Linked DNA regions of Homo sapiens: region 2 is linked to region 1. The links come from fine-mapping of genetic effects on gene expression. A gene starts in region 1. The other region holds a variant in brackets. All regions are shown on one strand. Distances are from middle to middle.

Region 1 (15,559 bases):
CTGCAAGGTGACGATGCTGCTGCAGGTGTAGATGATGGTCTTCAGTGATTGCTACAGAGGAGAGGGCACTTCACTATCTAGCTTTCAGAACATGAGCCTCAAGTTTCTTTTGCCTTGTTTCCTCTTCAGGGAAAACAGAGACAGAGATGGAGAAGGAGACTCCTGAGTTCATCAAGAAACACCTTGATCCAGCCTTGCTTGGAACGTTGGGGTAGATGAACAACAGGTATGTGGCCTTTTCTGTGTGGGCCACTGGGAACTGGGTTTCTGCCATTTGCAGAAAGAGGTTCCTGACTGGCATGCAGGCCCCAACCCAGGCTGAGCTTGAAGTGCAATGGCACACGTGGCCTCCCTTCCTGTCTGCCCACCTTCTTGGGGCCTATTGCTGTGGAGCTCCAGGGAGGCCCCTTCCCTGCTGGATGGAGCAGGGAGAAAGAATATCTTCATGGCTAATACTCCTTCATCATGTTGCTTTGAGGACACTCTAGCTGGCACTGAGAACCTGAGCTGTGGAGTCCCAATTCTATTCATTAGTAGGTGTGTGACCCAGGGCAAGCTTAACTTCTCTAAATCTAAATCTCTTCATCTCTAAAGTGGGAAAATAATGGTCTCCAGGCCTGCAGGTTGTTGTGAGGCTTAGGCAACGCTGTATATGCAAAGCATTTAGCACAATGTTCTGCACATATTAGATACTCAACACATGGTGTCTGTGTCAGTAAGCAAGTTTCTCTCTAAATAACTGCACACATTCATACAATACATGATGACTCAAATCCAATAGAAGCTTATGTCTTGCCTTTATGGCAGTCCAAGTGGTTATGAGACAGGTAACTCTCTTCCATGGTGTATTTCTGAGACTCAAACCCCTTCCATGATGTGAATCACCATCTCATTGATGTCTGTGTCCTTCCAGGAGAATGGACAAGACATCATAAAGGCGGTAATCATGCTTCCTTCGGCCAGAAACGGTCCCCATCCCATCTATTGATGAGAACGCAGCCATGTGACCACATCTCCTTGCCAGGCAGGCTGGGCAATGTGGCTTCACCACGTACCAAGGAAGGAGGAGCAGCAACTGGTGAGCATACAGCGCAGCACCCACTTGTGGTGCCAGACCATCAGGTAAGGCCAGACACAGCCGGGCAGCCTGGCAGCAAGGACAACGAAACCTGGAGCTGGTTTATCGGTGACGAGTGGAATCTGTTTCCTGAAGAGCCTGAGAAGGCAAAGAGCCTCCTCTGCGGGAAGACGGGAGTGAGGGGCTGACTGCCGGCATTCCAGGACAAGAAATTCTGCCCCTCCGGGGTGCATCCTCCTTCTTCCATTCTCATGGAAGTGGTCAGCGACGTCAGGAAGCTCACTCCGTGTTTTCCAAGGAAAGAACACTGGTCCTGGAATCGGCCTGCCTCTGGTTCCAGCAGGCCCGGCCAGGCCATCCCGGCACCTCCGCTGGCTTCTCCTCCAACCCATCAGGCTTGGTCAGTCCTTCTCTTCCAGCGACCTCAGAGTGGCAGAGCCATTGGTGCAGCTATAAATGACTGATGGCCCGGTTGTGTTGGAGGAATTGTAAACACCATTCATAATTCATCGGGCGGGCATGTGCTTTGCATTTAGAATGGCTGGTACCCGCAGCCTGCTGCGGAGCTGCAGGGAGACCTGGTGGACGACGTCCCCTGCACCCTCCAGGGCCAGTGGCTCAGCCAGGATTCAGGGAGGCTCTAGTGGCTGGATTAACTCAGGGCTTCAAGGCTGGCTTTTCACAGAGCTCCATGTTTGAGGTATTAGCTTATCACCTGTTACTTAATTTTTTCCTTTCCATCAACTACCTTATTTTACATAATTCAATTTTAAAAAGGAAAATTTGCATCATTTTCCAAAATGAAAATCAGTATCTACTGCCCTTAATATCCAGTCCCAGCGAGGAGGAGGAAGTGCATCTCTGATTGGCTTGATTTGGTTGTGTGCCCATCCCTTATCCAATCACTGTGATGAGAGTGTGTGTAACTCTGATTGGCTTGATCTGGTCATGTGGTTACATGTTATCCAATCACTGTGATGAGGATGTTTGGGACTATGATTGGCTTGATTTGGTCATGTGCCCACCTCTTATCCAATCACCATGATGAGGCTGGGCTGTGTATGACTCTGATTGGCCAGTAATAGGTCACATGCTCACTGGTGATGTGACGGGCTGGGTCAAAGTGCAGGTCACTTTCTTCAGGGAAATCCTGATGTTGTGACAGGAGGAAGAGGAAGAGGAGGGACATGTCAAATAATATCGCCCACGGTTCTGTTCTCTAAATGTTCCTCTTTCTCCCACACTGCTGAGCAGAGCTGTTGAGGTCTGCAAGGAACTGCTGGTGTAAAGTGTGGGATTGAGCCCCTGTGCTCCCCAGGTGGGCCTTGGTGAGCCCCTGAGTGTGAACACATGCCTGGGCTGAGCCCCTGAGAGTGAGGCCCTGTGTGTGAACACCTGCTTGGGGTGAGCCCCTGAGAGTGAGCCCCTGTGAACACATGCCTGGGCTGAGTCCCTGAGAGTGAGCCCCTGTGTGTGAACACATTCCCGGGGTGATCCCCTGAGAGTGAGCCCCTGAATGTGAACACCTTCCTGGGGTGAGCCTCTGAGAGTGAGCCCCTGTGAACACTTTCCTGGGTGAGCCCCTGAGAGTGAACCTCTGTGTGTGAACACCTGCCCGGGGTGAGCCCCTGAGAGTGAGCTCCTGTGTATGACACCTTCCTGGGGTGAGCCCCTGAGAGTGAGCCCCTGAGTGTGAACACCTGCCTGGGATGGGCACCTGTCCAGCATGGGCATCTGAATGTGGGCATGTGAACGTATGCACCTGAGTATGAACAGCATTACCATACCATGCTCTCTGAGGAATTCTCACTGTGAAGTTCCTGGTAATAAAAGTCAATCAAAACTCCATGTTCTATCGACCCAGCTCCCTCCACATTCCACATCTTCTTTCTGGTCTTAAAACAGGAATTAAAAGAAATTAAAGAATGTGTAAGCAGAAACTCAGTTGTATGTAAGAAAACCCAGGCCGGGCGCGGTGGCTCACGCTTGTAATCCCAGCACTTTGGGAGGCCGAGGCGGGTGGATCACGAGGTCAGGAAATCGAGACCACGGTGAAACCCCGTCTCTACTAAAAAAAATAAAAAAAAAAAAAAATTAGCCGGGCGTGGTGGCGGGCGCCTGTAGTCCCAGCTACTCGGAGAGGCTGAGGCAGGAGAATGGAGTGAACCCGGGAGGCGGAGCTTGCAGTGAGCCGAGACTGCGCCACTGCACTCCAGCCTGGGTGACAGAGCGAGACTCCGTCTCAAAAAAAAAAAAAAAAAAAAAAAAAAAAAAAAAAAAAAGAAAACCCAATTCCCCTTGAGAAAGAGAAAGAGCTGGAGTCCTTTAAAAATTAACTGCCTGTTTTTCTGTGGCTAGTGAGCCTTATCTCTCCTCCCTTCCCAGGCATTGTGAAGACCCTGTTTCCCTAGCTGTGCAGCTGCAAGGTCACCAGACAGATAAACTCAAGTCGCAAAACATGTTTTTCCTTGAAAAGTAAGAAATGATGTAATACATGTCTCAGTTGAATAACTGTCTTTGTTTCTCGCTTCTGTAATATGCTTCCCCCTGCACAGATCTCCCCCCCACAACACCCCACCCCATGAAATGCTTAAAAGGTAACTTAACTCTTTGTTCAGGGCTCAGTCATTGGAATGTTAGTCCTACTGGGCCGGTGTACCTAAATAATAAATATCCTCCTCAACCCCATCGGTCTCTGATTCCTTATCAATCCTGCTACAGTCTTAGGCAGAGTCATCAGTTGGATATAAAGTTTCTCGGTCTGTTTTTAGTGAACGTACATGGAAAACACGTACAGAACTGGAATCGTGGAATAACTCACATGTGGAATTGAATCCTAAGCACAAGTTTGGTACCAAGGTCCACACATGAGGTGGGAATCATGCAGCATGAAGTCCCCTGGGGAGTCCCACACGGACCTGCATGGTAGCCACTGCCACCTGCCCCACCAGCCCAGCACGGCCGGCTTCACCCTGATGCTTCTGCAGTTGAGCAGAAGATGATGGTGGGTATGAACTTGGAAGCTAAACGGTCTGGATTTGCATCGCTGCACTTCTATAAGCCCATCTGTAAAACAGGTTTATGTGGATTCAGTAGTTGAATATAGGAGAAGCCGTAAGAGGGATTCTCGGCACTTCATAAATTCTCGGACGATGTTGGAAATGACGGCAGCGAAGAGCACGATGATCACTGTTACAGACTACAGCTTCCCAGCTGGCAAGGTGCCCACACCCCAAGGGGCAGGAAGAAACAGAGACAGGTAGGGACAGTGTGCTCCTGCTCAGGCTCACCTTGCTGCTGCGACGCTGGTGGCCACAGTTGCTTGCAGGACCTAAGGCCACCCACAGCGTGGTGTCCAGCCTGGCTGACCTTACCCTTTTCCGAGGGACCTGAAGTAGTTGAGGGTGGTCCTGGGACATGCTTGTATATTTTAGAGGTGCAGAGTGTAGAATTTAGAAGTAAAAGGCCATCGTGATTGCAATGTACTTCGAATTAATTCCAAAAAATCTAGAGAAGAAGCAAATGCAGGAAGTTATCGGTAATTGTGACATCTGGCTGATGGTAAATGGGTGTTCTCCATACCCTTCTCCCTCCATTTCTGCATGTTTAAAATTGTCCACAATAAAAAGATGAAAACATGAATGAAAGTATCTTTTGCTAAAACAACAATATAGTGGAGATGAGGTATTATTGCATGAATACATCTACCTGCACAGATTTGAAGCAACCTCTGATTAGCCCCAAGCAGGCCCCACAGTAAATAGAGCAGGCATAATATCCTCCATTTAACAAGAGCCTCCCTGAGCCCGGGGGTCAGGTGCATCTTTGGTGAAGGTCTTTTTATGAAGCACTTGCCTGCAGCGCCTTTTTGTGAATGTCTAATCTGATGTCAGGTGGTCCCTCCAATGTCAGCCTCTGGTAGAAAAGTGCTACTCCCAGAGAAAAGCGTATTCAAAACTGCAAAATCATATCCTTTTCTGCCTCCTGCAGGGCTCTTGGCTCTTGAAAAACTGCTTAATATTTCCTAAAACCCAGGGGCTATTTTCCACTCTCCTCTCCTCTCTGCATTCCATTCAGCAATCCCGAGGGGATGTAGATGAGGATGCTGCCTGTTGTTTCCTTATTCAGGAAATTCTAAGGCATTTTCTCTACATGGAGGATTTTGAAGAGTGAATGAGAAAAGATAAACATCTTCAGAAAGAATCTCTGGGTGCTGGCAAGCAAGGAATGAGTTTTGCATTCGGGGAGGCCATTTGCCTTCAGTGTGGGGAGTCGGCAGTGTCAGAACTTGGCAGTGAACCTGAGGACGTGGACAGGAGCAGATGGGATGTTTGACTTCACCTCCCTTTTTCTCCCCGATGCATTTCAGTGCAGGTCTGCTGTGCTGCACCAGCTGCGTGGCTGAGGAGGAGACGAGGAGGAGGTTCTTGGGCACAGGAGGAACGGGGCTGGGGTGAAAGCAGCCAGCCAAGTGCGGGGGGTGCGCTCAGCGGGGGAAGCCAAAGTGCGTGGAAAAGAAGTGCTCTCCAGGACCAGCCCTGCCCACGGCCTCCTGGCCCTCAGGGGGACTCACAGACCTGACTCAACAGGCGCACACTCACACACAGGCACACATGCATGTACACAAGACACGTGTGCATATGAATGCACCCATGCACATGTGCATATGTACAGACGTGCATGGCACAGACACAGAAACATGAATCTGCACATGCACACACATGCATGCACACAGAGAGACACACGCATGCACACACATGCGTGCACAGAGAGACACACACAAGCACACGTATGCACACATGCGTATATACGTATGCATGTATACCACAAACACGCACATGCACAGATACACAAACACATTCACACACACACATGCACACATATGCATGCACACACAGAGACACACACAAGCACACATGTGCACACATGCATATATACGCATGCATGTATACCACAACCATGCACATGCACAGATACACAAACATTCACACAGACACACACATGCACACACACATGCACAGAGACAGAAGTACATGCACACACACACACATGCACAGAGGCATGCACACATGGAAGAAGCAGATACAAATGCACATATAGACACGTGTGCACACACATGCAAACACAGACTCAAAGTGTGGGAGACACCACCACCACTGCGCTGTCTGCTTACCTGTGTTTAGGGACTTTCGAGTTTTTCCACCTCTGCCACATTCTGCAAACCCCGAGAAGTGCAGCCCTTTTGGGTCATGATGGTGTCTGGTTCCCCTGCAGGAGAACATCTGGGCAGCTGTGGCGTTCGCCTTCCAGAGAGACTCCTGTCTCCTCCTACTGGGGAGGACTCACCGTGGACACCTGCAGATTGCTAAGTCATATCTCCAAGACGTTCTGGAGCCTGCTTTTCCACAACTCGAATAACTGTCGAATTTCCCACAATTCGAATAACAATAGAACGTGTCCCCATTCATTTCAGAAAGTGGAGGGCTCAGTGGAACAGCCCAGGACCTCATGTGAGGAGGAGATGGGGGCTGCTGAGGCCAGCATCAGAGCCTGGACAGGCACAATAGAATGTCCTAAAGAATTTCTGGAGACATGGCGAATTGTACTGCTGTCTAGATTTGCTCCTCCCCTGTGGCCCCAGCCCTGCTCATGCCGTTGGGTTAGGCCAGTCAGTGAGTCAATGGAACCAGTTGATTGGTTAGACGGTCCAGGTATTGGCTGCCGATGTGAGCGTGTGAGGATGGTAAAGGGCTGGCCCCCAGGTTAGGCTGGGCACACCTGATTTGAATAGATATTACACAAAATGTCCTCCAAACAGACTGCTCCTACACGCACTGCCACCAATGATATGAGGGGGACTGTCCCATCTCCCCCAGGCCCTTTTCCCTTCCCTAAAGACGGCAGAACAGGTTCTGTCTTTGCAATGATGAACCCAGACTCAGGCACCTCCAGTGGCTGAGCTCCCCAGAGAAGGCAGGGCCAGCCTCGTTCTGCACCTCCAGGCCATCCCACCATTGCAGGAGGCAGGGCAGGCATTTAGAGGAAGGGGAGGGGACACAGGGAGGACAGGAGCCGGGCCTTTCCCCCAGGGCTTCCTCCGTCCTGCTCCTGCAACAGCTTCTGGGCTCCGCTGGACCTCACCTGACCCTGCTCCCTGCACGGGGCAGCTCAGGGACCTTGACATCTGGGAAGAGAGGCTGCAGGGGAGGGGCTGGCGGGCGGCTGGGGGTCCCCGTAGTCCGGCTCTTTTCCCTCCTCACACACTGCTGTCTGCTCCCCGCTTGCCTGGCCCTGAGGCGAAGGGCCCAGGGGTCGCTGGTGAGGACGGGCTGCAGCTGGGCTGTCCTGGTGGAGGGAAGGAGATTATAAAAGGCCCTCAGAGAGCTACACAAGGTGGCCTTGTTTGGGGAACAGCCTCCCTCAAGCTCAGGGTTCCCTCCCATGTGAGCAGGAAGGGGTGGCCCAGGACCTGTGGTCAGGAGGCCTGCACTGTGTGGCTGGGGTGGGGGTCACTGCGGGTCTATTTCTAGCTCCGGCCTCTGCCCCACAGCCGGAGGCATTGGGTGAAGCCATTTGCAGCCTGAGGCATCCAGCGCCCTGGCCCTCCCTGCAGCTGTGACCTCACCAAAAACAGAGGCCACACTTCCCAGGGCGGGAGGGGCTGGAGGGCCCAGCTGTGAGGGTGAATGTGGCTGAGACCTTAGCTCCCTGGGGACCCAGGGCAGAATGAGCTTCCTCTACAACATACTGTGGCTCCCCATTGATGTGCAGAAGAGTCCATGCCCCTCCTCAGCTGGGGTTCACCAGTGTCACTACCACCCTTAGTCCTACTCCTCTACCAGCACCCCCTGCCACCTTGCCCTTCTTCTCTGGGCTGTGGCCTCATCCACCTCCATCTGTGTCCTGGTGGAGACCAGCACCCTCCTGGGGCAGGGCAGGAGGGCTTCCCTCTGTACCTCAGTGCCCAGAGTAGGACCCGGCAGGGCCCTCACCCTGCAAAGACGGGTACAGTGAGTGCAGAGGGTGAGGACGATGACACCCATCCTCGGGCACGCTGTAAGCAGCCATGCCTTCGAGCCTGAAAAGTGCTGGCCACAGTTCCCAGGTGGTCAGGATGCAGTGGAGCTGATGGCCCTGGGGAGTCAGCTCAGCCCAGCCCAGCCAGCAACAGGCTCTGCCCCGAGGCGCGAGTTCAAATCCCCTCCAGGCTCCAGCTGGGGAGGGCAGCCCACTCAGCCTCCCTGGACCTCAGGGTCCTCGTCTGTGAAATGGGAGTGAAAGTCACGGCGGGCGAGCCCGGGAGGGCTGCTGTGAGGATGAATGAGGGACCAGCTCCTGGCACGATGCACACCCCGTCCAGCCAGCACCGTCACAGGGGGTCAGCAACAAGGATGATTCCTCTTCCTCCCACCAAGGCGCAGAGGGCCTCTGAGTCACAAAGGAAAGGAACAGAGAAGACAGGCTGTGCTCCCGGTGACAAAGAGTCAGCTCTAAAGCCCAAATCCGCATTTACAGATGAGAAAACAACCACCACGGGCTGCAGGTGCTGATCCTCAAGCCTGTGATGGGCCGAGAAGCCCAGGGACTCTGCAGGGAAACGCCGAGCCCATGGCCCTGGCCTTGGCATTGAACCACGCACTTTTGCCCAGGTGGGTTAACACCCAGGGAGGCAGAGGGTTAGGACAGAGGGTCCCGGCACTCACTCCCGGGGCCTCGGGAGGTGACGGGGGCATCACCCCACTCTACTCCCTGTGTCCCTCCTGTGCCTGGGCTGAGAGGTGGGGACGACCGTGGGGCTCAGACCCCAGCATGGTGGCCAGGAGCTGAGTGACCAGCAGCAGGGCCAGCAGCAGTGCCAGATCAGATGGCAGGACTGATCTCATGTGTCAACAGCAGCACCCCAAAGACTCCAGAGACATTTTTGGGGATGAGGCCCCCACTGGGGAGCAGGGTCCTGACGTCACACAGGAGGCAAATTCAGCACCACGTCACTGTCCTTGGGTGGTCACAGGCGGCTGCACTGGGTGTGAGAGTGTCCACAACCCCTGAGGAACCTGCAGAACTGTCAGCTCGGGGGTCCCAAGATCAGCCAGATGAGTCTTGATACACCTGTGAACCGTTGGAGGACTTGCATCTCCTATTTCGGAAGGAAACATCCCAGACTAAAAAGGCTCCTACCACTGATCCTGAAGGAAAACCCTTTTCTCCTTAAAAAGATAAGTGAAGGCCTACGTAATCTTTATCTGTAACACCTCTCCTTCCCCCTTTAATGGAATCCTTTTACTATTTCATCATATTACTAAGCAGCGTATTAACCATACTCTTCAGGATAGGACTACATACTGTAGCTCCTACCGGGACGAAAATCCTAATCACATTAACCTTCTTTCTATCTTCCTTCCTTCTGACAGCAATTTATGCCTACCTTTAACTCAGCCTGGATAAAATGATCTTGTCTTCCAGAGCACCCTTTTACCTTCCTATTTACTCTGCCTGTCTATCCCTCCTACTTCCTTGGATACCTCATACAATCACCCCTCCCCTTCCTCTAGCTCCTAATTACCTCTACAAGACTCTCAACTTAACCCACTCAATGTTAAACCAGTCCAGTCCTTCCTGGGCAAATGACTGTTGGCTTTGTATCTCTCTATCAACCTCTGCTTACATTGCCACTCCCATTCCCACAAAAAATTGGGTCTTTACCAGCTTAACCTACCACCCTCATTATGAAGGAAAAGACCCTTTCCGACTTCTAAATATGCAACCATTAGCCGGCTTCCCCATCTCTGATAGGACCAAGAGTACCCTAACAGGACCCACAATCCAACTTTTATGTTCTTACATTTCCAACCTCACCTATTACACAAGCAATGAAAAGCCCATACACTGCCCTGTAACTACGAATACCATCTTAACTTTCTAAGCCCCTTTATGCATCCAGTGCAACCTGTTATCAGGCCTGCCCCTGGGGCACCTGCCACCCCATCAGTGTAATTACACCCTACATCTTCAAGCCCCAACTGATCATAGTAACTTCTGAGTCACCCAAACAGCTCCATTCAGACAGCTTGTCCACTTCTCAGGTCCCCCCAAAATCACCTCTTCCCTGCTTAACAAACAGTTCAGGTTTTGTGATGGCAAACATACTCCCTGCATGACTGTTCACCCCTGGAACCCCTGCAGCAGTGCCCCTACCACTAGTGAATGCCTTCTCATCCCCTCTTTCAGTCACTCTCTCGAATGGTTCCTAGTGGATACAAAACGGTTTTTCTCCAATGGGAAAATAGAATGCAGGCAGCCACTCAGTTTGCTCCCAACACCCCTTTCCAGCTGCTCACCGGAGCTACCTTGGCAAGTACTCTAGGAGTATGGGAAAATGAAAACAACAAACTCACACCTTTTTAACATACACAACCAGTTCTGTCTACCCAGCCAAGGTATATTCTTCTTACGTGGAACGTCGACCTATATCTGCCTCCCCACCACCTGGACAGGCACCTGCACCTTAGTCTTTCTAAGTCCCAACATTAACACTGCCCCAGGAAATCAGACCCTATCAGTACCCCTCAAAGTTCAAGTCTGTCAGCGCAGAGCCATACAACTAATACCCCTACTTACAGGGTTAGGAATGGCTACTGCTAAAGGAACCAGAATAGCCAGTTTATCTACTTCATTATCCGACTACCACACACTCTCAAAGGATTTCTCAGACAGTTTGCAAGAAATAACGACATCTATCCTTACTCTACAATCCCAAATAGACTCTTTGGCAGCAGTGACTCTCCAAAACTGCTGAGACCTAGACCTCCTCACTGCTGAGAAAGGAGGACTCTGCACCTTCTTAGGGGAAGAGTGTTGTTTTTACATTAACCAGTCAGGGATAGTACGAGATGCCACCCGGTGTTTACCGGAAAAGGCTTCTGAAATCAGACAATGCCTTTCAAACTCTTATACCACCCTCTGGAGTTGGGTGACATGGCTTCTCCCCTTTCTAGGTCCTGTGACAGCCATCTTGCTATTACTTGCCTTCAGGCCCTGTATTTTTAACCTCCTTGTCAAATTTGTTCCCTCTAGAATTGAGGCCATCAAGCTACAGATGGTCTTACAAATGAAACCCCAAATGAGCTCAACTAAGAACTTCTATTGAGGACACCTGGACCGACCGGCTGGCCTAAAGAGTTCCCCTCTGGAGGACACTACAACTGCAGGGCCCCTTCTTTGCCCCTATCCAGCAGGAAGTAGCTAGAGCTGTCATCGCCCAATTCCCAGCAGCAGTTGGGGTGTCCTGTTTAGAGGGGGGATTGAGAGGTGAAGCCAGCTGGGCTTCTGGGTCGGGTGGGGACTTGGAGAACTTTTCTGTCTAGCTAAAGTATTGTAAACACACCAATCAGAACTCTGTGTTTAGCTAAAGGTTTGTAAATGCACCAATCCGCACTCTGTAAAAACGGACCAGTCAGCACTCTGTAAAATGGATCAATCAGCACTCTGTAAAATGGACCAATCAGCAGGACGTGGGTGGGACCAAATAAGGGAATAAAAGCTGGCCACCCGAGCCTGCAGTGGCAACCCGCTTGGGTCCCCTTCCACGCTGTGGAAGCTTTGTTCTTTCACTCTTCACAATAAATCTTGCTGCTGTTCACTCTTTGGGTCTGTACTACCTTTATGAGCTGTAATACTCACTGAGAAGGTCTGTGGCTTCACTCCTGAAGTCAAGCAAGACCACAAACCCACTGGAAGGAAGAAACTCCGGACACATCTGAACATCTAAAGGAACAAACTCTGGACACACCATCTTTAAGAACTGTAACACTCACCGTGAGGATCCGTGGCTTCATTCTTGAAGTCAGCGAGACCAAGAACCTACTGGAAGGAACCAATTCCGGACACACAGCCAAGTGCCCACCCCGGAACCCATCACCCAGTCCATGGGAATGGAATGTTCTCCTCTCACAGGTCTGGGTCACAGGAGCACACCTGACCTGGGGGTGGAGTCAGCCCCACCCAGACCAGACCATGTGGACAGAGTGAGGGAGCAGGGGACTCCCAGATAAGCCAGGGGTGTGGCCTGCAGCAGAGACATCCCCTCAGCTGTCCCCTCCAGGACTCCCAGGCTGCTGTCACCCAGGGCTCATAAAAGCCTCTGGCAGACGGGAGGCCCCGCCCAGCACCCATGATGCCCACTGAGCTTCTCCTGGCAGCCGGCCAGGTTCCACAGGGAGGGTAGTGCCAGGAAACCCAGTGCACAGAGGGGCTTACAGATGCCCATGGGAAGACAGCTGGGTGTGCCTTGCTCCCACAGGATGTGGATGTGTCCCCTGTGTCCCAGGCTGTGGGCCCATTTGTGTCACTCATCACCCTGGCCTCATTTTCTGAGTGACTGTGCTTCTCCCTAGGAGCCCCGAGAAGAGACAGCCAGCGGGTGCTGCTAATTAATGAGGCTCAGCTGGAATCAGCTGTTTCAAACTTAAAAGGCTGTTAATGGGATTTCTAATTCCAGGGGTGGAAAGAGTTAAATTGTATTGCCAAAGACTCTTGCAATCCAAGATGTTTTCTGATTCTGGTTTTGTTCTGGTAATTAATTGGATAGAAGTTGTCCAACTTTGTGGAGACACCAGAGCTATTGCTGGTTTCACTGAGTCTCTGGAAGATTAAGTTACTTTGTCTCTCCCGGGAACTCCCAGAACCGGCCACATTGGTGCCATTTCAAAGACAAAGGGCTGAGCAGCTTTCACAGCGTGTGTCCATTGTTTTCTAACTCCAGAACCGTGGAAAAGCAGCAGGCTGTGTCTGCTCAGAGCAGGGCCCTGGGCTCGCCCGGCCCAGACCCCAGGACCCCAGGACCCAGGAGCCCCGCTGAGGTGCTGGCTGGGGCCTCGGGCAGGTCCAAGCCTTGGTTTTCTCATCTGGAGAAAGGGGCTGAGGACAGCACCTGCTGTCTAGGGTCTCTGTCGGCTGTAGGAGAGAGTGCAGCAGGCATTTGGCCCCAGGCCTGGCACATCCTGAGCCTCACAAATGTCCAAGAAATGACTCCGTGGGTGAATCACCACTCCTCTGTTACACAGCTTGCGATGTCTTCCCACTGTCCTGAAAGTCCCAAACCTTTAACATGCCGTGGAAAAGTCCCCAGAAGGCAGTCTAAGGACATGTTTCGGGGACTGAAAGTGGAAGAAGTTTTTAAAATAGGGAGAGAATTTGTGTTTGGGCTTTCTAAAGAGTGTGGTGCTCAGAGGAGATTCGAACTCCATTGGGCTCCCATACCTTCCTTGGGGAGGTAGAATCGTCTTTGGTTTCAGTAACACAGGGGGCCCCACAGCCTTGGCTGACTCAGCCCTGGCAGCTTGGGTCTGTCCAGTCCCGCAGGACCGGCCCCACCCCTCACATCTGCTGTCCTTCATCCTCCTGAGACCCTGGGTCTGAGCTAGGGTGGGCTCCCGCCCACCACAAGCTCCCCCACAATCAGCCGCCCCCCAACTTCACCCACAGCCCCCTTAACTGCTGCTCCTGTCTTGCGGGATCTGCCACCTGTGCTTGGAGGTGCCCCCACCACCTCCACGCTGGTGGGCTTTAAACCATTTCCACGAACTCTCCACCCCTTCACTCTTATCTCCTCACTTGTTCACATCAAGTATTTTCATTTAAAATGTAAAGACATGGTTGCAGAAATGTAATTCCCCATGTATTATGAACATTGATATTTTAGAAACTGCCTCATCCTTCCCAGTGTCTCTTTCCATACTGCAGCATGGGCATGTAGGATTAGATAAGTATACTTGCTATCTGTATACACATTTATTCTTTTTCCCTTTTCCAGTTCTAAGGCTCAGGTAAGTGCCACTAGTTCTGCTAACTGGGTGCTGGTCCCTGGGGGAAGAGGCTTACTTTCAAGTACTGTTACATCACTAACTATGGCATAACCTGCCCGTTGTATGCCATTCTCCACAAATGAGCTTCCATCCTATACAGGTTAAGGTCAGGATTAGCTAAAGGGACTTCTAGGAGATCCTCTTGGGTGGCATAAATCTGGACTATAATTTGTTGGCAGTCATGCTTGATTGGTTCCCCATCCTATGGGAGAAGAGTGGCAGGGTTGAGGGCCACACACATGTGTATTTGAAGCACTGGTCCCTCAAGGAGTAGCACCTGGTATCTAAGCAGGTGGTTATCTGATAGCCATAAACTTCCTTTGGCACCTAGTATGCCATTTACATCATGAGTAGTCCAGATAGTGAGATCCCTTCCTTGTATTATTTTGATAGCCTCTGATACTAAGATAGCCACCTTTGCAACCACCCATAAACAGTGAGGCCAGCCTTTTGCTACTACATCAGTTTCCTTACTTAGATATGCCACTGGTTGTGGGGTTGTCCCATAAGTCTGAGGAAGGACTCCAAGAGCTATTCCCACTCTCTCTCTGTGAAGTATAAAGAGAAGTTTTGTCCTATGGGAAGACTTTAGGCTGGAGCTTATACTAGGGCCTGCTTTAAGGTTTTGAAGGCTGTTTCTGCCTCTAGTTCCCATTCTACTAGATGAGTATTTGCCCTATGGGTCTCCTTGATTATAGAGTGGTCTGGCCATCTCACTGTATCCTGGGATCCACAGTTGGCAAAAGCTGGTGATTCCAAGGAAGCCCCACAACTGTTTTAATGTCTTAGGGTGAGGATAAGCCAGTATAGGCTGTATTCATTCCTTGCTGAGGGCCCTGGGTCCTCTGGCTAAGATTAGGCCTAAATATTTGACTTGTTGTAGGCAGAGCTGGGCCTTTGATTTAGACGCCTTGTAACCTTGATTAGCTAGAAATTTCAAGAGATCTAGAGTAGCCTGCTGGCATAAGGATTCTAAACTTGTAGCCAAAAGTAAATCATCCACATACTGAAGGACCAGAGTGCCTGGACTTGAGAAGTGGCCTAGATCTTGGGCCAGTGCCTGACCAAACAGATGAGGGCTATCCCTAAAACCTGGAGGCAAGACAGTCCATGTAAGTTGGGATGTGTGGTCTGTGGGATCCTCAAAGACAAAGAAAAACTGGGAGTCGGAGTGCAGGGGAATGCAGAAGACATCCTTGAGGTTCAGAACAGTGAACCATTCTACTTACTCTGGTATTTGAGAAAGCAGGGTATAGGGGTTAGGTACAACTGGATATAGAGGAATTACTGCTTCATTGATGAGTCTAAGATCTTGCACTAGTCTCCACGGACCATTTGGTTTTGTACTCCTAGAATTGGGGTGTTGCAGGGACTGCTGCATTTTCTTACTAAGCCTTGAGCTTTTAAATGTCTAACAATATCCTGTAATCCTTTATGAGCTTCGGGACTTACGGGATATTGCCTTTGATAAGGAAAAGTGGTGGGGTCTTTTAGCCTGATTTGGACTGGGCAGGCATGCATTTTTTGCTCTCCAAATTGTCCTTCAAATGTCCAGACTTTGGAGATGATTCCTTCCTCAAGTAGGGAACAACAAATGGGTAACTTTCCCCTATTCATG
Region 2 (15,559 bases), 27 kb before region 1:
GTCAGAGCAGCTCGCTGGGCCCTGGAGGCCCCGATTTGGACACACGGTCTGTCCGCGGTGAGCAGCTCATAAATGGCGCGTGGTCCATCATGGTCCCTCTCATAAATGAGAGCTTCCTTCTCAGCTCAGGGAGTGACCTACATTTTACCTTTTTATTGAAGTTCAATTTACCAGTTGTGAATGTGTGTCCGGGTAGATTTTCACAGTGAACACAGCTGGGCAGCCTGCACCCCACACAGGAAACAACTCCACGGGCACCATAGAAGGGCCTCCCGCCTCTCCCGCCCACCACTGCCCTTCCCTCAAGCCCAGCGGCAGCCGCAGTGAGCCCCGAAACTGAGGATGGCACGGGCTGGCAGGGGTGGTGAGGTCCAGGGCTAGGGACAGCTGGCTGGGGAGGCTGAGGCAGCTGCTGTGACGGGGGCGAGTTGGCAGCGGGCTCTCTTGCACCCAGGATGGGCCGGTGCTGATCACAGATACGCGAGGACTCTGCCTCCGTTTGCCCTGGCGTTGCTCCTGCTTTTGGCTTTGTTTACATTGCTTTGCGTTTCTCCCCTTTATTCACGGGGAATCAGTCCACTGGAAAAGCCAATTAAAAACAAAAAGATTAGAGGCATTTACTGTTACCCTATGAAAATTTCAAATAGCACTGGGAATACACCGCTAAAAATTGACTCCCATTAAAATTAAACAAATAGTTTACATTCAGCATTCATTTCCTCGGTCAGGTTTTGTGCTGTTTCCATGGGAACACGCAGCATTTGTGTGAATGCGGTGCCCTCCCTGGCTGAGGTCCTTTCATGCCTGGCTTTGGGTTCTTCCAACGACGCCCGAGCCCTTCTCCGGCAAAGTGAGTCTCTAGTGAGTGGACGAGTCGTCTGGTGCAGCATCTTTCAAGACCAGCTTCCTGGTGGGTCCACAGGAGTTTTGCCTCAGGAAGCTCCGCACTCAGCCTTTGGGGGAAATAGAACAGGACAAAATAGAACAGAGCAGAACAGTGTTTCCCGAGATGCAGTCTGGTGCGAGGCTTTATATATCTGCAGTGAATTGGAGCAGACTTTCCAATGAGCAGCCTCCAGGAGAATTCAGGGCTCTGTGTCCGTTCTCACTCAATCAGCAAGAAACACCCTGAGTTCTAATGAACAGAGCTCAGATCAGACGGGACACTGGAGAGAAAAATCCAAGAAATAAACCCCATCTGCGGCCATGTCGCACGCCTCACGGTTGCCTCTGAAATGGAATTTGTGCTCTGTTGTCTCAAAAAGCAAAGACTAGAATCAGGAATGGGGCAGTCGCGGCAGACCCTGAGAGACCAGGCGGCTGATGGGGGCATCCTGGTGGGGCAGCCCTGAGCCGCCCACAGCAGGGGAGGCCCCCCGGGGAGGCAGCTGGTCACCACCCTGGTGTCTGTGGTCACGACGGTCTCAGACGTGGGGCCCCCGGGGGAACTCTGGGGCTCGGTAGGTAGCAGAGTTAAGCACGTCATGGTGGCCTGAGCCGGAGTGCTATGTGAAGGCTCCATGTCCACGCTAGGCTGAGGCCGCCTGTCAGGCTATGTGTGTGGGTGGGGACGCTCTGCGACCCTGTCTGCAGCTGGGATCTGGAGTCTCCAATGGACAGTTGCATAGATGCCTGGCGTGCCTTGTGGAATCGCAGTGCCAAATGCACCTTCTCACTGCATCAGGCTCCCAGAATAAAGGGCTCCCACTGCCCAGTCTCGGGGGTAGCCACTGAAAGGGTGTCTTGAAGACGTGGGACTACAGACACCCGGGGTGGGCCGGCTGCCGAGTGCCTGCAGTGAGACCCTGCCCATCACGGACAGTTGACTAGGCCTTTACCAGCACCTGACAGGAGCCGGCCCAACCCCAGCCCTTTCCTGGGCATTTGGCCTTGGAGCCAGAAGATTCCAGGACACTCCAAGATGCTCAGACCGAACATCTCCTCTGAGGTAGAGGAGACGTCACCTTAAGGGCTGTGGGGTTCATCTGCCTCGAAGATTAGGTTGCAGAGAAATCTGGTCCTCAGGCGAAGAGCAAAGCAACCACAAGGATCGCGGCAGGGGCGGGCTGGCCCTTCTCTTATGGAAACCCTCCCTTTCCCTGACTTGTCTCCTCCATCTCTCGGGACACCCCTGGGGCCCTGCGCCGGCCCCTCCTCTCCTCCTGTAAGCAACATCTAAGCTGAAGCTCCTGAGGCCCCAGACCCCGCCCCTCCTCTATATGTGCTCCTGCTCGGGAATAGAATCCAGCTGTTGGCAAGGGCTTCCTGGGAAGGGATGGGCGGTAGGGATTGGAGCCTTTGTGGCCTCGCTATCTCTGTTGCAGTCACTCAACTTCACCGTGGTAGAGTGAGGACAGCCACGGGCGACACGCACACGGGCAGGTGTGGCATGGCTCCGGGGAGCCTTCATTACGGCAGCCAGCAGAGCCAGCCGGCAGGACAGCTTGCGGAGCCGATCCCTTCCCACCTCCACCGCGATCACCACGGAGATCACAAGCTTCTACGTCTCCACCCTGGAGCCTGTGGTCATGTCTCTGGTGGACACCTGAATGACCCTGGGACGTCTGACATTCATCATGATGGCATGACTGAGCGCTTGCTGTGTACTTAGTCCCTGCTGGGGTTGTCTCGTTTAATTCTCTGATACAGAGTCTGCAGCTTTGTCCACCACCCTGAACTGCCTCTCAAATTTACCCACAACGAACCCTACCTATATCCCCTCTACCACGCTCCTGCAGGCTCAGTGACGCTGAGTTTCTCGTGTCGGTAATGCAAGAGTTAGCGCTGGTTCTCCCCCTCTCACTCCCACACTGACACATGTCATCAGATCTCCTTCCAAATATTTTCCACATCTGCCCCCCGTTCCCATCTCTCCTGCTGTGGCAGTGAAACAGCAAAAGAATGGACATCACTCACTCCATCTTTGTTTAAGGGGCCCTTACCCCTTCCCGCACATAGGCCGGGATAATTTTACAGCACTGAGATGAAATGCAAAGATGGCAATCACTTAGTTTTAAAAACTAAGTCTGAGATTAAAGGAGAAGCATGTAAATCACTGACTGTGTTTTGTGAAAGATTTACAGGAGATTGTGACCTGACCAAGGACAAAAGAAGTGGCCAAACTATATTTTCGCTCAACAATTCTACCTCTATGTATTTACTAGAAAACTCCTCACCAGTAATAAAACTGTACTTAACACTTACCAAGAACTTATTGTGAGGTGAGCACTGCTCCAACATGCCTGAGTATGTTACCTTACTCTTCACACAAGCTCTCTTATGTAAGCACTCATGTAAGGACTGACAGTACAAATTTTCCACACTTAGCAGGTGAAAGTGAAGAGGAGTTGAGTAATGGGTCCATGGTTGCTATGGTTTGGATGTAGCTCTCTGGTCCCCACCAAAACTCAGGTTGACATGGGATCCCCAGTGTGGTGTTGAGAGGTGGGAGGTGTGTGGATCATGGGGATGGATCCCTCACAAATAGCTTGGTGCTGTTCTCTTGGTAGTGAGTGAGTGCTCGCTCTCCCAGGAATGGACTTGTTTCTGAGAGAGAGGATGCTTTAAAAGCCTGGATTCCTTCATCTCCCACTCTGGCTTCATCGGTCTCCCTCTCTTTCTTCCTTGGTCTCCCTCTCTGGCTTCCCCCCCAACACTGTGTGATCTGTTTGCACACACCTGATGCCCTTTCTCTTTTCTGCCATGAGTTGAAGTATTCTAGGACCCTCACCAAATGCAGCTGCCCAAACTTGGACTTTTCAGCCATCAGAATCGTGAGCCAAATAAACCTCTTTTCTTTATAAACTACGCAGCCTCAGGTATTCTCTCAGAGCAACACACAATGGACTAAGACAGTGCTCACATGGGTAGTAAGTCCTTGAGCCTGGATTTGTGCCTCTAACCCATGCATCCAACTCCCGAGTCTCCTCTCTCAACCATGGCAGGACAGAGCCACTTGTATAACTACACAAATGTGTATTTTTAGGATTATTCATGGCAAAATTATAGGAGCACAAAGTGAAACAAATTTGTAAGAGCGAAAATTCTACCAATAGAGAACGTAGTAAACAAATCACAGCATAATTATACCATGAAATATTGAGTAGCAGTTACTGAAGAAGTGACCATCCTGTGTGCCCTGGAAGACTATATGTGCACATGTATGTATGTGTGTGTACACCTATCACACACACACATTCACATGACTGTGTCTGATGGCTCTGAAAAACTAGCGCTGACCTGTTACGGGGCTCATCCCTGAGGCCTGGATGAAACGAGGCCTTTCATCTCTTTCAGTATTCCTCAATCTTCTGCAACTTTTACACAACTTGTTTCTTTGAAGAGGAGAAAAAAACCCCTAAAAATAGAATAGAAAGAAAAGTGAGACAGATGATCAATGCGGTCTGGCCGAGCTCATGCCCATAGGACTTTCATTGGGATGCTGATTTCAAGATGGAGAAAACAGCTGACAATGGCACTCAGCAGTGGCTGTGGATTGAGCTTCCCCAGGAAGGTCACCAATTTCAGTCAGGTGTGTCTCCGCTTCCTGCTGCCACTCGTCATTCTTAGTGACCGGGTGCCTGCCCACTCCCTGAGGGGGTTGGCAGGATGCAAAACACTTAGCAGGTCCCTCAAGGGCAGGCCGGTGGCACACAACAAAGGCTGGCCCCCTGACTTGGGCACTGCGAGTGCACGGCCTGGCTCTCCTCCCCCAGCTGTGATGCCATCACAGCCCCCGAAGCTGTTGGGGAGGGAGTCCCTGTGCGTGCCCATGCCCTAGAATGAGGGGGTTCCACACCATCTAAGGTGGGGGTCTCCTAAAGCAGCTTCCCAAGTTCTCTGCATGGTAAGAACCGGGGATGCAGACGTGTGCTTGAAATACAGGTTCCTGGGCCCCCAGAGCTCCCGAACTCGCATCTCCGTGGACGGGGCTCTAGGTCTGGGTGTGTAAGGATCATCCCAGTGCATCAGGCAGGTTGGGGAGTGCTGCTGTCAAGTGATTGCTCTCAAAGGCAGTGCCCCCCAGGGCTCCTTGAAACACAGACCCCAGATCCTGGGCCTCTATCTAGAGTATGACTCTGCAGAGATGGTGCCAGGGATCTGCATTTCAACAGTGTCAAGGTGACCCTGCATGAGGCAGAGGCCTGCAGATGTGCTTTGGGAAACGCCACTCCAGAGCAAAAGAATACTCCACTGTGTGGGGCAAGGGGTCGCCTGCTGTCAAGGCCTTGTTCCAGCTGGAAGACCTCAGAGAGGAAGACGACAGCAGCACAGGACGGGCCTGTGACCTGACCGCTGCCCAGAGACATTCTCATGCCAACTGTGGGCTGAGAAATGTGGTCTCACTGTGCCCAGAAGGAAGATGGGCCAAGCCTGCTGAACGGCTGGCAATCTCAGCCACATCTTCCCACCCCCATCTCTAGCCAGCAGCTTGTGTTCCTGGAGGCACAACCCTTAGCAGCTGTTTAGTGTCCTTTAAGAGATATCTTAAGATTAGGCGCATATATTTCCTACACACGCCACACATACGCACACACACATGCGCACACGCACCTATACACACATGCACACGCATCCACACGCACACAGAGGCAGCTCCTTTCTGGAAGGCACTGGGCCTGTGTTTCCCCATCTTCCCTCCATCCCTCTCTTTCCTGTTCTTTCCTTCCTCCCTGTCTCTTCTCTCCCTCTCTCCCTCCCTCCCTCCCTTCCTTCTATTTCTCTTTCTCCCTCTTTCTTTCTGTCTCATTCTCCTTTTTTCTTCACTTAACAATATATGGGTCCACAATTGTACATAGGGAATATGGACCAACCTCATTCTTCTTAACATTGCCACAGTATTCTGTGATATGGATGCACCATAGTTTATTTACCAAGTTCCTTATACACAGCATTTAGATTATTCCTCATCTTGTCAAACAAAGATACTATTAAGATCCAATTAAAATAGTTTGTCTTTGTGAATCTGAGTGAGTGTAACGCTAGGATAAATTTCTAGAAGTAGAATTGTTGGCTAACAGAGTAGTGCACTCGCTATTTTAATAGACATTGCCAAATTGCCTTTGAAAGAGGTTGTTTATAAGCAGTATTTAATGGGCTACCACCACCACAACAGATACATATACCCTCCCAAACCATCCTTAGCTTGAAAGGATCTTGTCCAGATGACATTCTCCTCAAATGTCTCTATGCGTTCAAGGCAAGCCTATTCAAAATCCTGGAAGATTGTTTTTGCAAAAATAAATGTGTTGATTCTAACGTGTGTGTAAACACGTAAGAAAAGAGGACATCCAAGATGAGCAGAACAGCAGCCACCGAGGTGCAGGACTGTGCCCTCAGACGTTACACTGGTGATGAAGCAACAATGTCAGAAAGACAACCGAAGTACTGGTCACCCAGAGGGCCTAGGAATCATCACACGTGTGCACCAAGACTTCATCTATGACAAAGGTGACCCTGCAGGGTGGCAGGAGTCTTTCCCATAATGCCACGCCAATTGGATATCCATACGCAAATAAATGGATCTTCCAATGTTCCTTATCCTCCCCCAAATCACTTCCAGCTAGACCATAGTCCAACTGTGAAACAACTTTTAGAAGATAACAGGGGAATAACTCTTGGCCTCGTGGCAGAGATGGACGTTTAATAGGAAACAAATTTAAGGGTTAAAATGTCTTGATTGCACTTAATTAAAATTAGGAATTAAAATAAAAAACATGTTTTATATTATCACAGTTGGGATTAAGTTAAAAAAATGTTTTACACTTTGGGAGGCTGAGGTGGGAGGATCGCTTGAGCCCAGGAGTTGGAGACCACCCGGGGCAACATAGACACACCCTGTCTCTACGAAAACGAAAATTTAAAAGTTAGCCAGATGTGGTGATGTGTGCCTGTAGTCTCAACTACTCCGGAGGCTGAGGTGGGAGGATGGCTTGAGCTCAGGAGATCAAGGCTGCAGTGAGCTATGATCTTGCCGCTGCACCCCAGTCTGAGTGACAGTGAAACCCTGTCTCAAAAAAAATTTGAAAGTAGAGATATAAACCACCTAGGAGGAGAAACTATTTAGGCACACGTAACTGGCAAAGGACTCATATCCAGAATATATTTGTAAAGTCTGTAAGTCAGTAAGAAATAGACAACCCAATTGAATAGTAAACAGGTACTGTATAAAAGTTGTCAGTAGTATTATAACTTTGTTTTGGGTTTCCACATTTTATTTTCTACATAGTTAAAGAGACAGATACATTTAAAAATTATTTGTTTCTGTTTTTGGACACATGACATATAAAGATATAATTCTGTGACATCAACAACTGAAGGAAGTGGGAATGGAGATGTGAAGGAGTGGAAGTTTTTGTGTTATTGACATTTAACCAGGATAAATTCATGTCAGAGTGTAGCAACTTTATTATATCAGCCACAAAGAGAATAGCTGCAGAGTAAACACAAAAGGAAATGAGAGAGGAATTTAAACATTTCACTACAGAAAATCGACTAAACACAAAAGAAGACAATGCAGTAAAGGAGGGACCAGAAAAATGATAAAGGACGTAGAAAACACATTCCAGAAGGACAGAGGTGAGCCCACCCCACCCCCATTATCAGTCACTTAAGAAGGGAGGAATTTCTAACACATGCCACAGTGTGATGCACCTGGGGGAGGTGATGCAGGTGCAGTGGGATCCCACTCACAGGATGGAGGGAGGGATTGATGGGTGGATGGAGGGAGGGATTGATGGGTGGATGGAGGGATGGAAGGATGGAAGGATGGATAAAGGGATGGATGGATGGATTGATGGAGGGATGGATGAACGGATGGAGGGATGGATGGAAGGATGGACAAAGGGATGGATGGATGGAGGGAGGGATGGGTGGATGGAGGGATGGATGGAAGGATGGATGGAGGGATGGATGGATTGATGGAGGGATGGACAGATGGATGGAGGGATGGACAGATGGATGGATGGATTGATGGAGGGATGGATTGATGGAGGGATGGATTGATGGAGGGATTGATGGATGGATGGATCGATGGAGGGATGGATTGATGGAGGGATGGATTGATGGAGGGATGGATGGAGGGAGGAATGGATTGATGGATGGAGGGATGGATGGATGGAGGGCTGGATGGTGGTGATGGTTGCACAGTAAAAGCAATGTACTTAGTATCATCAAACTGTACACTTAAAAATGGTTAAGATAGTCAATTTTATGTTATGTGTATTTTACCACGATAAAAAAAATTGGCCCCCAAGCCCCACAATATATTAAAAACAGCAAACATTTAAACTTACCTTCCAGGAACCTCAAAGATGCACAGACATGCGGGCCACTTGCTTTTGCCCTTGGACCCACTCGCTGACCTTGCTTTGCTCTTTGCTTCCCAAGGGTGCTGTACTCCCTGGCCTCCTTGTCCCCCATTTCTGGGCAGTTCTTAAGCAGGCAGTTACCGAGGCAACAGGCAAGATTACCTGCAGGCGGCTAAGAGCAAGCCAAATGGGGCCAACAGGTTAGCACAGGGGCCCCGGTCAGTAACGGACGCTCCAGAAAGTGGCTGGGACAGACATCTGTGGTCACCCGCAGTGGGCAACTTCCTTGCTGAAGGAGGAGTGACTGTTGGAGGAAAAGTCCCAAAGGCCGAGCCAAGAACCATGTCCTTATGTTGAACTTTGCTCACTGTAATAGTGAAAAACACATGCCTGGGCAGAGATTTAAAATGCTAATGAGACAGGCAATGTATGTGCCAGCATGTACAGTGACGGCCTCTGTAGGCCCAGGAACCCACCCACAACATGCTTAGTTCCTGCTCCTTCAGGAATAATCATGTGAGACTCCCATCAAAGGAACTTCCCAGTGCCAGTCTCACTGTCTTATTCCAGAGCAGCCCGCTCTGACCCAGCTAGTGGTGCACACTTTCGCTTTGCAATAAACTTCTTTGCCCACTCTTACTTTGGACTTGCTCCCAAATTATTTCGTGCACAGATGTCAAGAACCTGAACAGGCCCACCCACAGCATCCCTGGCCAATGGGAGGCCTCAGCAGGACATGGCAGGCGGGAGATGTGGGGAGGCCACAGCCTGGTGCTTTTCTGTCTCGCTCCCTCCGGTGTGTCTGGCTTGTCTGGGAGCGTCTGCTGTTACTGAAGTCCCAGCTTTGCCTCCGTCTTTCTCCCTCTAACCCAAGACAAAGAGCAGTGTGCTGGATTCCTGCTGTTGCTAAATTCTGGACTGCTCCACGCCCCTGGGTTTGGCTTCTGTGTTCTTCCACCCATTCTCTGCATTACATTTCCTCCCTGTGAAATGTCTTGAGTCAATTCTGTCTCTCGACTAGACCACGCCTGCAACACTAACTGTTCCGTTCGGACAGAAGGTTCCTGAGAACACACTGGCGCTGCTGCGCTC[CACAGGACTGCTGCT/T]CACAGGTAAGATGCAGAGGAGAACGGTCGCCACAGCCGTCTCAACGTCCAACAGAATTTTCACTGTGCAGGCGGTGATTTATTTTCTTTCTCCACCAACTTGGTTGGCCTTCATGCCACGGGGATGAGCAGCCTAGGACCCTGGTGAGGCCACGGCTCCAGTAGACCCTGACAGTGAAGCTGTGGTCCCTGGTTAGCGGTCACTGCCTGACACTTAGGGCCTCCCTTCATTCCTCCAGGGAGCCGAGGTGCATGTTCGTGCCATAGAGAGGCCCACGCTTTTCATGCAACACAGCCGGTAAATGCAGACTCACTCCCTGGCCTGGGGCTCTGATGGAGACACAGGAACCTGGTCCCTGGCTGCAGGAAGCAACACCCATGGGTCCAGGGAGGGGTGTTGTGTCCGTCACTGTATTTCAAGGGCTTACGAAGGTGTTGCCTTTGGTCATTCTGCTATTTGTGACTTCATCTTATGTACTAACGTTAGGATGCTACTTCTGAAAAGGATGTGACTCACTTACTCTATTAAAAAAAAGAGTAAAGTTTTTTCTTTAAGGAGCCTGCTGCCTGAGGGAACCCTGTACAGTTATGGGGTCAGGAGTGGAGCCTCAGGCCAAGTGATTAAGAACAGGAAGAGATTCTGGGCAGAAATGATCGATACATTTATAAAGGAGATTCTATTGGTTCCACGTCTGAAGGATGAAAATACAGAAGGTCAATTCACACAGAGCATACACTCTGTGCCTGCCCTGTTCAGGTTAAATCCACACCAAAGCTCATTCTGCAAAAAACGAAATGGAGACACAGAGTGAATAATCAGCTCCCTGCACCCCACGCTCTGTAAACCAGGACACTGGCCCTCTCGCTCCCGAGTCCATGCCGCGAGCACTGACTGACCCTGCCTGACCCTGCCATAGAAGCAGGGCTCTGGGCTGCTGATTTCCAGTAGGAAATTCAACAGCTCATCAAACCCATGGTTGCCATGGCCTGGCCGGAAGAGACTCTTCTCCCCTGAGGAGTAAGAGTGAAGGGTTATCAGATTCTAAGAGTCTTGGGAGGTTGCTTTGTTCAGGAAAGTCACCTCCTTCGTGGGGGTCCCTCCTCCCACATCTATTCCTGGAAACCCAGGTTGGCTAGGGACACGACGGGGCATCGCTTGAGGTAAGAAGACCCCCCAACACTGTTTTTTTGGGGTGGGCCACACCCTCCTGGGGTCACATTGGACACCGACGGTCTGCTTCCCCTCTGAAGGGCCCTGGTTCTCACTGCTTACCACAAAGGAGACCCCTGAGCCAAGGGAGGCTCCCCGCTGGCTCTTCCCTGCCTCATCCCAAGAAGCCCTGCCCATTGCCCCTGCCCTGCTCTGCCTGACATGCCGGAGGTGGAGGATTGTTCCATGAGCAGCTCCACATTGATTAGGTTTCCATGGCCAACAACCCAGGTCCTTGTCACGGATGCCGGCATTTTGTTGTCCTGCTGGTTTGATGCTGGCATCCACTGGACAAATCAATGGTCAAAGGGAGGCAGGGAGTAGAGAGAGGGCACTGTGCATTCTGCAAGTGACTCCAGAGCCCCAAAGACAGCCGGTTCCATTCAAACAAACAACGCACGTGCTGACGTCCCCGTGAGTTGTGTAGGCAGCGTTGCAAAAGTTCCCCAAACCCTTATGTATGTGCACATTTGGAGCCTGCGAATGGATCTGCTCCAACATTTGGCCAAGATGGGAGCATGGGGCTGAACATCCACTTCCCCTCCCAGCCAAGTTTTCAGCTTCCACATAGGTTCCCGGGCAGAGGGTCCAATTCTGCTGAAATCAGGCCTAGGAGAACTGCCTGGGGCATGTTGTTAGAACAGAAATCCTGCAGGTGCTGCCCCGACTCATTCTGTCCAGGCCCTCCAAGGTTAGTGCCCCGGAAAGAAGAGCTCAGCTCCAGGCCTGGCCCCGCTGGAGAGAGGCCAGGACACTCCCAGGACAGTGCTCGGAGGGCAGGAGCTGGGGATCCGGTGAGGTGGATTCCAGGCTGAAGGAAGGAGTCCTGAAGGGGATCAGGTGAGGAGAGGAGGAGACCATGAATGGAGAGCAAGTGTCTGCGGAGGACCTGGGGTCACCGGATGGCACTCACGGTGCTGGGACTCTGGAGCCTGGCAGGGCTGCCTCTGGGGTCTGGGGGAGCCTGACCCTTCCCACGATCTGGGCCATCCATGGGGAGGACAAGAACAGTGGCCTGCTGCTCACCTGGAGATCCTGGATTGAGGAGGGGGCTGTCAGCTCATGGACACCTCCCTGCTTCTCACGCTGGCTCCACTGAGCCCCCAGATCCTTCCTGCCCTGCCGTGGGACCTGCAGGCATCTTTCCTGGCCAGAAGACCCTCAGCAGTGAGTCCACTCCCCAGAGCAAATGTCCAGGTCCACCCTGTGTGGTGGCCGCTGGCCTCCCTGCCCCCTGAGCAGCCAGGTGGGTGTTCCGAGTCCAGAGCCTCCTCCATGCCCCTTCCTCTGTTCCCATCTGTCACCACCTGGGCCAGGGCCTTAGTGAGGGACCCTGCAGGCAGGCATGCCCTCAGGACACGCACCAGGAGTGAGGGTGGGTCCAGCTGCCATCAGTTGCGCCCCAGGGCTCCTGGCTGTGGTGAGGGTCTGGTCTAGCCACTACCAGCTCCCAGAGTGCCTGCTCTGACCCTGGCTGAGTTCAGGAAGGGGCCTCTTCCAGGTCCTCCCCTAGAAGGGGTGGGCACCTTCCCATTTCAACAGTCCTGAGAGGGCACCTTTTCCTTCTTTGCACACTTGCTGGTGGCAGCCCAGGCCCTGTGTGCCCGACAGGCCATGCTGTCACTCCAGGGCCTGTCCCCTCTGTGTCCAGTCAGTGGCTGTGTCTTGCTGTCCATGCTGCACACAGGACCCCAGGCTTTTGCTGCTCTGTGACTCTCCAGCCTCACCCCCAGCCCCAACCTCAAAGGCCTCATGCTTGGGGACCTTGAGGACTCAGCCTCCAGTGCTCTCTGGATCCTCTGCCTGACCGGGAGTCACCTCTGCCACAGGGACGCATCCCCCAGACCAGTCTCTCCCTGGTGGTCTGGCCTCCTCCCCCAGAAAGCAGGCCAGACCCATGGTTTGAGATAGGACACTTTCCAAAATTAAATTCCTCTGCCAGAGGCGTCTCGCTCAGACAGTGAGCTCTCATAATTGCTCGTTTTGGGATCCGATCAGATATTTCCTTGACAAGAGCCTGCGGATATAATGTTAATAGAAAAAAATTGTATTTGGCATTTTTGTGCTCTTCCCTGCCAAAGGCTCTGAGCCTCGGCGCTTATTGGTTTTCTGCGGCAGATTCATTTTGCATTTCCTCCTTATTACTGGGCTTAGTGGGACCAGAGCTGTTTGAGGAGGGAGAGATTATCATTTTCCACCTCCGCGCTGTACAGTTCATCAACAGCGTGCAAATGACAGAGGCTGGGTGGGGAGTGGCGGACTCGGAAGCAGAGGGCAGGCCGGAGACCAAGTGAGGGAGACCAGTGGCCATGAGAGCCAGCATGGACAGGAGCTGTGGGTCACATCTCTATGGTCCCAGCCTATTACCCCAAAGTCCAGAGTTGCCAAAACTTCCATTTGTTCAAGAGCATCCTGGCCCCGCATTCCCAGATGAGGCCCCTGATGTCTGCAGGTGGGCCTGGGTGGGACCCGCTGCCCTGCAGGCCCCATCCGGCTCCCCCGACCCCACTCCACCCGCCCTAAGATGACTGGGGCCCTCTGTCCATCCAGGCTCCCTTCCCTCCCTATTTTGAGTTGGGCTCCACTAATGGAGTCTCCCCTGGGGCACAGAGCAGGCTGGAGAGACAGGCTGAGGTCGCGGCATTTATTCCTCGTGCCCTCCCTGCATGGGGCTGTGCTGCTGGCAAGAGCTGGGACCCCCAGTCTCCAGGCCCAGCTTCTGTGGAGTGCCCCGCATGGCCTCACGGGGACCCTCATCTCCAGACCCAGCTTCTGTGGAGTGCCCCGCATGGCCTCACGGGGACCCCCAGTCTCCAGACCCAGCTTCTGTAGAGTGCCCCGCATGGCCTCACGGGGACCCCCAGTCTCCAGGCCCAGCTTCTGTGGAGTGCCCCGCATGGCCTCACGGGGACCCCCAGTCTCCAGACCCAGCTTCTGTGGAGTGCCCCGCATGGCCTCACGGGGACCCCCAGTCTCCAGGCCCAGCTTCTGTGGAGTGCCCCGCATGGCCTCACGGGGACCCCCAGTCTCCAGGCCCAGCTTCTGTGGAGTGCCCCGCATGGCCTCACGGGGACCCCCAGTCTCCAGGCCCAGCTTCTGTAGAGTGCCCCGCATGGCCTCACGGGGACCCCCAGTCTCCAGACCCAGCTTCTGTAGAGTGCCCCATATGGCCTCACGGGGACCCCCAGTCTCCAGACCCAGCTTCTGTAGAGTGCCCCGCATGGCCTCACGGGGACCCCCAGTCTCCAGGCCCAGCTTCTGTAGAGTGCCCCATATGGCCTCACGGGGACCCCCAGTCTCCAGACCCAGCTTCTGTGGAGTGCCCCGCATGGCCTCCCTGGGACCCAGCAGCATGGCTCCTGCCCTGCTCCTCAGGCCACAGGTGGCGACAACATCCACTGTGGCACCCCCCCTCGAGTTCCACGCCATCCTTGCTCACCCTGCCTGCGCCTCTGCAAGGCACCCTTCTGTGAACGGTTGAGTGAACTCTGGTTCCTGCCAGGGCCCCGGCTGATGGAGCCTTGAATGAAAACAAAGAGACCACAATCCTCTGAACCCTCCTCAGCCCGATGAGAAAGCAGCCTCCCACTCAATTCACTCAAACAAACAGGCTCTGTGCCTGGGCTGACCCTGCTTTTGAACCCAGCCCAAGGTCAGACAGTTCCCCGTTCCCCATTCATCATGGCTGGGAGGTGGCATGACAGCTGTGGCCTGTCCTGGGGCTGGCAGGGTTCAGCAGGGGCTGAAGGGTCACAAATGGTGAGGACTGGGGTACTGGGAGTAGGGACCCTGGGAGAGGCTGGTCCTGGGAACCATGTCAAGGAGCCTGGCGGTCATCAGGGAGCACGTGAGGGAGAAGAGGAGGTGCTTTCTCCAGAGGAGGGAAGCTTGGTGCAGGCAGCTGCTCCATTCCCTTGGAGCTTGGGCTGGGCTGTGACCCTCGGGGTGGGGAAGAAGCAGCCACCTGGGGAGACTCCAGCTCAGGGCAGGGGCATCCCCCCAGCCAGCCACTGCCTGTGGGCCTCGTTCATAGGGGACGTCACGGTGCAGCCAGCACATGCACTGGGCAGCTCTTCTCTGGGGGCCAGGAGAGCCCAGGTTGGATGTCATGGTCCCAGACACCTGCTCAGCCGAGAGGGACACCTGCCATCCAGAAGGAGGCGGTGGGGTTCTCTTCCTGGACACGGAACCTACACGTGACTTCGCTGGTTGTAAAAGTGACACAAGCCTCCTGTGAAAGAAAAGCAAGAAAGTAAGCAGCGCGAAGGCATTTCCATGAAGTGGGAGGCGTGTGCAGGTCAGCGTGCCCCTCCACGGCCCACGCTTCAGGCATTCTGTTCATGTTTTTACAGCTTTAACATTTTCTGCATAGTGATGTCATACATGTATTTTGAAACAAAATGGGTCCTAATATACAAAAGGTCCTTTTTTAAAATTACTCAACATTGTGGCGTGCACATTTTCGCAGTGACTGTGGACCTACTGTGTGGGTCTCCACCCCTGGCCCTGGTCTGTTGTCACTGCTCCTCCAGCATAAACCAAAAAACAATAAGTCCCTGATCGGGGAGTGGGGGAGAGGTGGAGGCAGGGACAGCTCCCACAGGGATGCGAGGGTAGGGGAAGGGCACAGAGGGAGTGACTCAGGGCTGGTGATCTTAGTGGGAGCAGCTAAGCCCTACATGCTTCGGGAGCTTGGCTCTAGTCACAGGTCCTGTGAGCCTGTCCTTGTAGGCATTTCTTCGTGGAGCAAACATCTCCAAATGTGAAAGCCTTTCGGCACATTTCACCAAACTGCCCCCAGAAGCTTCGAACAGGGGACACTTACCAGCCCCCAGAGGGTCCTGAGAATCCATCCCCCAGACCCTCATTGGCATCAGCTATTGCAGTGAGTTTCAGTCTTTTCTCACCCGATGAACTTGAAGTATTTTCGTTTC

What was found. PIP is the estimated chance that this variant, and not a neighbour inherited with it, causes the effect.
Region 2: its variant is fine-mapped to the expression of LINC02370 in tibial nerve (GTEx, PIP 0.99).

What each region holds. Positions count from the first base shown.
Region 1 is chr12:131,338,354-131,353,912 of GRCh38, reverse strand. It overlaps LINC02370 (long intergenic non-protein coding RNA 2370), which reads right to left and starts at 6,443. Exons shown (of 5, transcript NR_103736.1): 1 at 6,252-6,443; 2 at 4,369-4,585. RefSeq lists enhancers at 5,009-5,553, 6,746-7,383, 12,250-12,825, 12,826-13,399 and a silencer at 7,925-8,149.
Region 2 is chr12:131,365,253-131,380,811 of GRCh38, reverse strand. It overlaps LINC02370 (long intergenic non-protein coding RNA 2370), which reads right to left. Exons shown (of 5, transcript NR_103736.1): 3 at 13,797-14,856; 4 at 13,473-13,688; 5 at 13,257-13,365. Among named protein-coding and RNA genes, the nearest start is that of LINC02370, 26 kb to the right of the region's middle. RefSeq lists an enhancer at 1-266. The variant CACAGGACTGCTGCT/T (reference allele first, on the strand shown) is at 9,402.